Homo sapiens: one gene and its partner. The protein of the gene in region 1 purifies or fractionates together with the protein of each later gene. This does not show direct contact. Each region holds a gene or a part of one and is shown in the gene's direction. Other genes may lie near its edges.

Region 1 (3,658 bases):
ATACATTTTTAAATTTGCACATAAATGTGAAGTTTCAGAGCATGCATATGACTCTGAAAGTTGTTTTTGCATTGATTATGAATCCCATTGATACACAGGCATATAGATCTAGTTAAATCACAATCTCTTTGTTGCCATAATAATGGGCATATGAATGATATACAATTTTTTAAAAATTACACACACTGCTGCAATGATCATCCTTGCACATACTTCTATGCACACGTAGGGATTTACCTAGGTTACATGACTAGAGAAATTCTGAAACAATTTTCATCCTACCACTCTCTCACACAATATTTTCAGTTTACTCTGTTTATAGGATAAAATCTAGACTTTTCTGGTTGACTTTCAAAGTCCTTGAAAATCTCAAACATATTTTCTGATATTTTCATTCTCACATCCTTCTACTCTTAGCCAGTTCCCTATTTCATGAACACATTTATCTCTTAACCTAGAATCCTTTCTGTTTCCACACCACTGATTCAAATATTTACCTTATTTAAAAGTCCTACTAGAATTCTTCCTTTTAGACTAATTCAGTTCACAGGGGACTGTTACCTTACAGTTGTTATCGATGAAAAATCATATAAAGCAGACTAAAAACAGCAAATAGCGCTGCATTTGATTTTCATCAGAACCAAGTGGTGACTGCCAAAAGAAAAAACCCTGTGGGTTTTTAAAAGCAGGGAACAGGGCTCAGAGTCTATTTTCAACATATATTTGTAAATTTGATTAACATACATTGAATTCTGTGATTAACAGTATTGGCAAATAAGTTGACATATAACATGTCATTTCTCCCCCTCTGAAGAAACGATCACAACAACAATTCAAGATTTATTTCCCAAAGTGATGAAGAAAATGAGGGTTCCCATAACTTTGGGCTGCTGCTTGGTTTTGTTTCTCCTTGGTCTCGTCTGTGTGACTCAGGTATACTACAGCATTTTTTTTCATAGAAACATATTAGTTGGAACATACTTTATAACCTAACTAAAGAAACCAAAGCTTAAGAGGATGCTTAGTGACAAGTCCAGGTCTGACTTGGATCAAGGTTTTCTGGGTTTTAGCCCATTTTTCTCCATTATTACTTTTATAGAAAGTCTATTTTGCAGATGAGGAGGCCGAATAATGGACAGTTACTTCAGTTACAATAAGATTACAGACTTTAAACACATACTACATTTCTCACAGCCACTTCAGAACATACAGACATTGCATACCATTCTGATAATCAACAAATTTAAGTGCTTATTTTCTTTCCAGTGACTCAGTATAGATTGAAAGATTCTTGAGATATTTAAAGTCACATTTGAGTTTACATTTGAAACATTGCTTTTCGCATTTTAGCAGAAGGGAAACTAAGGAGCATATGTCAAGATCAAATAAATAGATTCAATTTGAATATCCCATCAATCATAAAAACAATTAAAATATACTTAGAAGTAATTAACATTTTTTTGGTAGGCTGGAATTTACTGGGTTCATCTGATTGACCACTTCTGTGCTGGATGGGGCATTTTAATTGCAGCTATACTGGAGCTAGTTGGAATCATCTGGATTTATGGTAAATAGTAACTATAAAATTATTTTCCAGTTTTATTAAAATAGTTTAGTTTGATTCATTTTCATTATATTTACCTAATTATACTATTAATTTTTATACTATTATAATAGCAAAGTACAATATACTGCACAACATTATGTTATGTAAAAATATAATTACAGGTGTATGATTCATTGTTGTGGTAGAGAAAAATGTTTAGACACAGAAAGATAATTGATGCCATAATGGTTACTGGAAGAAAATATTAGCAAGCACTCAATGTACTCTTTGTTTTCTTTAGGAGGGAACAGATTCATTGAGGATACAGAAATGATGATTGGAGCAAAGAGGTGGATATTCTGGCTATGGTGGAGAGCTTGCTGGTTTGTAATTACGCCTATCCTTTTGATTGTAAGTAATAATACACCATGAACTTGATTTCGATAATACATATGTTCTAAGATAAACTTAATAATTCACATTGAAGACAAAAGGCAAATTAATTTTATAAAGGAATGATTTTCAAGTTTTGCAGTATTTATGGCTGGTGCCTCCAAGTTGCCTAAATTAAAATGCCTTTGCAGTATTATTTTGAGGCCATCAGTTTAAACATTTACCATTTGAGAAAATAAACAGGTTCGTATAGATGTAAAAGTTATCAGTAATTTAAAATTTATCAATACAAAAAATGAAAATAAAACATGAATTTGCTCATTCCCTAAAAAAATATGTTGAGCCATCAATAATATTCCTAACCTCTCTGCCAGGCACAGAAAAAACAAAGATGCATAAGGCCCAGATCCTCTCTTCAAAGAATTCAGTTTAAATATACTGACTGCTGAGAAACAACAGTCATATTTTAATTCATATTTTATCTCTTAATGAGGGAGGTATTTGGCAGATGATAGTAAAAGAAACTTACCTGTGTCAATAAGGGCAATGGTTTATGTCAATAAATTCAACAATTAATACTATTTAGAAGCTGAGGTAAAGCAAAAGTATGTCTTACTCGAGAGACATAACTTATCAACTTAAAATGTTCAAATAACATTTCAGGACAGTAAATGGCTGAGCACCAAAATAAACACTACACTGGAGGGAGAATGATTATGGACTAGAAATAATGGTGGTGGGGTGAGGCAGTGTCAAAGCTTCATAGATTTATTTTGGTTTTCATTGCCTTCATGCTTCAAAGGTTTTCCTAGAAAAGACCATTAAGTAATTCTATGCAGGATTTCCTTCAAATCTAAAGTACCACATTTGTTTGTAGAGAGGATTACATTTTTTTTTTTAACATTATGAGATCACTTTCAAAAGCTGAGCAGTTTGGAACGAGATCATGGTGAATTAAAATATTTGGATATTCCATATTTTTGCTAAATGATTTTGAAAATGACACTAAATATTTTTATTTGACAAGTCTCCATAATAAAGTAAGCCCCCTTGTCAACTTAGAAGGTCTAGCTGGATCACTTAACAAGCTAATATTCAATGATTACATAAGTTTGACACCTGAATTTAATTTAAAATGCAAAAGTATTAGATATGAAATGATTTACATTGCCATCTATTTTTTATAAAGTCATGTGTATTGGACTCCACTATCCCTCATCCATTCTTTTGTAGTTATGTACATTCATAGTAACTGTAAAGTATATTTAAATTACTGTAATTAAATTAATGGAGCTAAGCCATTTAATTTTAAAATTAAACATAGATCTATTTATTGTTTTCTCGCTGATTTTAATAAAACAAAAACAGCTAAATTTAAGGAAGCTCCTTAATAATTATTGGGTTTTGTTTTGTTTTGCTTTACCAATTTCTAATTAATTAGTTTTAATGCTTCAACATTTCGGGTTTATTTTAACTTGGCCTTATAATGTGTTCATCTTTAACATTCAGATTTGACTGTATTGCCTAAGCAGATATTGAGGGTTTTTTTGTTTGTTTTTTGTTTTTCCCTCAGTAAGATGCTGGAAGTGAAATGTGCTTTGGTAAATGCTCACCAATAATGTGTGTAAATGCATGTGTGTTTTTGATGTGTCAAAAGGGGATCTTTGTGCAGTGGGAAAGAATAGAAGCAATTCCTAAGCAAGGAGAAAAGCATGCCCA
Region 2 (3,658 bases), on another chromosome or scaffold:
TCAGATGGACTTTATTAATGCTGAGACCAACTTATTTTCACAGCATGTTTGTTTACTAATAAGTATGGTTATCATCAAAATATGGGAGAGAAGGGAAGAGGAATGAATCGTACTAAATGAAAAAGTGGCTCTGCGTGATCTATAAGTGGACTAGCACTAGACTAAAAGTCAGAGGATCTTCATTCAGCTCTGCCACTTTAGTTATATGTCCTTTTACGTAATGCTGGGGAGGGGTTCAGGTTTGATACTTAGGAACCTTCCTATGACATAAACCCTAGGTAATCTATGTGAAAATATCTTAAAAACTAAGTGGTGTCTGTAATCCCAGTGCTTTGGGAGGCCAAGGCGGGCAGATCACAACGTCAGGAGATCGAGACCATCCTGGCTAACACGGTGAAACCCTGTCTTTACTTAAAAAAATTAAAAAAATTAGCCAGGCATGGCGGCACGCGCCTGTAGTGCCAGCTACTCAGGAGGCTGAGGCAGGAGAATCACTTGAACCCGACAGGTGGAGGTTGCAGTGAGCCAAGATCACACCACTGCGCTCCAGCCTGGGCAACAGAGTGAGACTCCATCTCAAAAAAAACAAAAACAAAAACAAAAAAAACTAAGTGGTGTGTAAAATGGTAAAGCAGTGTAGCTCAGACTTTACATGAATTGATTTCCCAGTCATAGAGACCTAGTTGAAGTTCTGGCCCTACCACTTAATAACTGTGTGACTTTGGACAGTGTACTTAAGTAAGGTTAAGTTTTCTCACGTTTAAATCTATAGATGGTGCTATTAAGTTAGATCATGAATGTAAAATGCCTAGAACATATTTTGTAAAAAAAATTTTTAATTAATTTTACTGATAACTACTTTGATTTTATATACTGAATTTCTAAAGACTTAAGACAACCCACAGAATTGACTGATGTCCCTGTGAGCAGCAGGTTTGGGGCATGAAGAAGAGAGTAGAATTTGAAAAGAAGCTATTACCCAAAAAATGGGGGAACAAGAAAAGTGTACTTGTAGCAAAGATTCTAAAACAGATTTATTAATTTTATCTGAAAAATATCAAGATAAAGTCCCTTATTTGGGCAACTGCAGTGTCTTAATATTTTCTATATAAAGATTTTCCAAAGCTTGTAATCATTAATGTATGGAATAAATTTAAGGAGGCAGTTCTTCAATTTTGAAGTTTTTATTCCTGCAATGGATTATAGAAGTATATTAAAATTGTACAGATTGTAGAGCAGGGACTTTTGAGTTAATGCTTATAAGCTTAAAAATTTTGTCTTTTTAAAAAAATTAAGTGTTTTTATATCTTATTTTTATCCTTATATGAAATAGACAAAGAAATGTAGAGAACATAATGGAGACATAAACTAGAGTAAAATTCTTCCCTTCTTAAATTCATGATTCACAAGGGTTAGTAGTTTTGCAATGGAAAATATCAGCAAATTAAACAGTAAGTATAGCTATCATGAGTTTATGAATCACTTTATTCCTGAAAAAAAAAATTACTCATTTGTCTTAAGGAAAGATTTTATTAAGTTTATTGACTTTTCCTTAATGTTGATTGTCTATTATAACAAATGGATTTATTGATTTAGGAATGAATTTATTCTTTATACTAAGTAACTTTATTTTAAATAAATGAAATGTGAGCAATAAAAATGTTTTCCATATAATTTCTGAAGAGAATATTAGTTTTGCTATTCTCTTTTTTCCCTATGGTGAAATGATAGCGACTTTGGTTTTTATAAGTGTATTCATTTATATTTAGTATATACATATTATGTATATACTATATATAGAGTAAATATTTGTAGTATATAAAGTACGCAATGTGTGTGTATGTATATATAAAGACAGCTGAAGTGGTTGTGTATCTTCGTAGTAACATATTTATTTTTACCTGAAACTACTGAAGTGATCTTTAGAATAATGATTTATTTACATTTGAAACTCCTCTTTCTGTATATTTCTTTGTAGTTAGCTCTAGTTAATAAATTTACAACTGTGATTAGCTGTTTTTAAAAATTAATGGTATATCATAAGTATTTTCAGATTTAAATTTTAGAAGGAAACACTTTCTTATATCTTAAGGTTTTAAAAATCACTATTATTTTTGGTATTATTATGACTAACAACAAAAATTTCAGTTTTGGATCTTAATGCTATCTGTTGAAACTGTTCTCTTGGTAAGCCTTTAAAAAAATTTTATCTGCAACATGCCACATTTTGTTTCTTTTCTGAAAAATAATTAAGCTTATTTCACTGAAAATAAAATGGGTGGTATATGATATGATATAGAAGAGTTTCAGATGTGCTTGAGCAATGAAAAGCAACCAGACTTTATAAGTTTTTAGTTCTTAGTTTAATTTTTTTAATGTTTAAAGGTACAATAGAGAAGACTAATTGAATTGGAAAATACCTTTAAAATTGAAAAAAGAGCATATGTATAATAATAATAGTATATACATATGGAAAAAGTTGTAAGGAAATGCATCAAAATAAGTAATTATCTCTAGATTGATGCATTAAAGAAAAAATTAAAATTTATTACTATACCTTCTGTATATTTGAATTCATAATGTCAGTAGGCATTGCAAAATATTTCTTAATTTGATATGGAAAATTAAGGCACCTAAATAATTCTTTCATCTTAACTACTTGGATATCTTAAGTGAAAATGTTTTGTCTCATCCAGGTAGCTGAGTAAGTTATTTAATTTTATAGGTGTGTAAATATATTTTTAATTTTAAGTATATAAGTGCAGCAGAATTTTAAAAAGCAGAGTAAATCTCAGTATATAAGATAATTTACCACATTTCAAAGGGATAATTCAATCCAATGGTGAAAAAGGGCACATATATATCATAAATGTTAACTGATACAACTTGCTCATCTAGAAGAAAATATAATTGATCCAATACATTGCAACAGATGCAAAAACTGATTTCAGATGGATTAGAGGCTTAAATGTAAACAATAAAATATTTAAGATATTAATCTCCTAAATTTCCTTTATACAAACAATCCAGATGTAGTTTTTTAAACCAAGATAGGAAACCTAAAAGTCATAAAAGTATGGATAGACACATGAGACTGCATGGAAACGAAGGATTCTTTAGTGGCAAAAATAAAGGACCAAAGACAAAATCAGGCGGAAAAAAAGGCTTGAGATATATGTAACAGATGAGTTAACCATTGAAAGAACTCTTTCCAATTAAGAAAAAGTTCACCCAGTAAAAATATGGATAAAACATGTCACCAGAAGTTCACAGAAGAGAAATCCAAACATTCAACAAACAGTAAAGGATGTGTAACCTTACTAGTAATCAATATACTAACAATGAAATATTATTTCTCTGACAAGCAAAAATTAAGTGGTAAACCTACTGCTAGCAGGGATATGTGGAGAAGGATTATCTCATAAAATGCTAGCGGAGATGTGAAGTGTTAGAGTTTTTCCTAGTAAACAATCAAGCAACATCAGTTAATACTGAGAATACATGTATTTTCCACCCATCAGTCTAACTCCATGTAATCTTTTCCTTAGAAATAAAAGCACCAGTAAGAGTTTACAGGAGTGTTAGCTGCAACAGTGTTTCAATTTTCAATGTTAGTAGTGGCAAAAAACGTGGAAACAAAGGGAATGCCTGTTAATAG

The links.
Region 2: the proteins of SLC6A14 (region 1) and ATP6V1A purify together in Homo sapiens (affinity purification with mass spectrometry; one large-scale study listed by BioGRID and IntAct). This does not show direct contact.

Annotation. Positions count from the first base shown.
Region 1 is NC_000023.11:116,453,510-116,457,167, forward strand, and holds part of SLC6A14 (sodium- and chloride-dependent neutral and basic amino acid transporter B(0+)), read left to right. Parts: intron 1-814; coding exon 815-933; intron 934-1,467; coding exon 1,468-1,567; intron 1,568-1,847; coding exon 1,848-1,957; intron 1,958-3,658. UniProt on the Homo sapiens protein: Amino acid transporter that plays an important role in the absorption of amino acids in the intestinal tract. Mediates the uptake of a broad range of neutral and cationic amino acids (with the exception of proline) in a Na(+)/Cl(-)-dependent manner.
Region 2 is NC_000003.12:113,749,904-113,753,561, forward strand, and holds part of ATP6V1A (V-type proton ATPase catalytic subunit A), read left to right. Parts: intron 1-3,658. UniProt on the Homo sapiens protein: Catalytic subunit of the V1 complex of vacuolar(H+)-ATPase (V-ATPase), a multisubunit enzyme composed of a peripheral complex (V1) that hydrolyzes ATP and a membrane integral complex (V0) that translocates protons.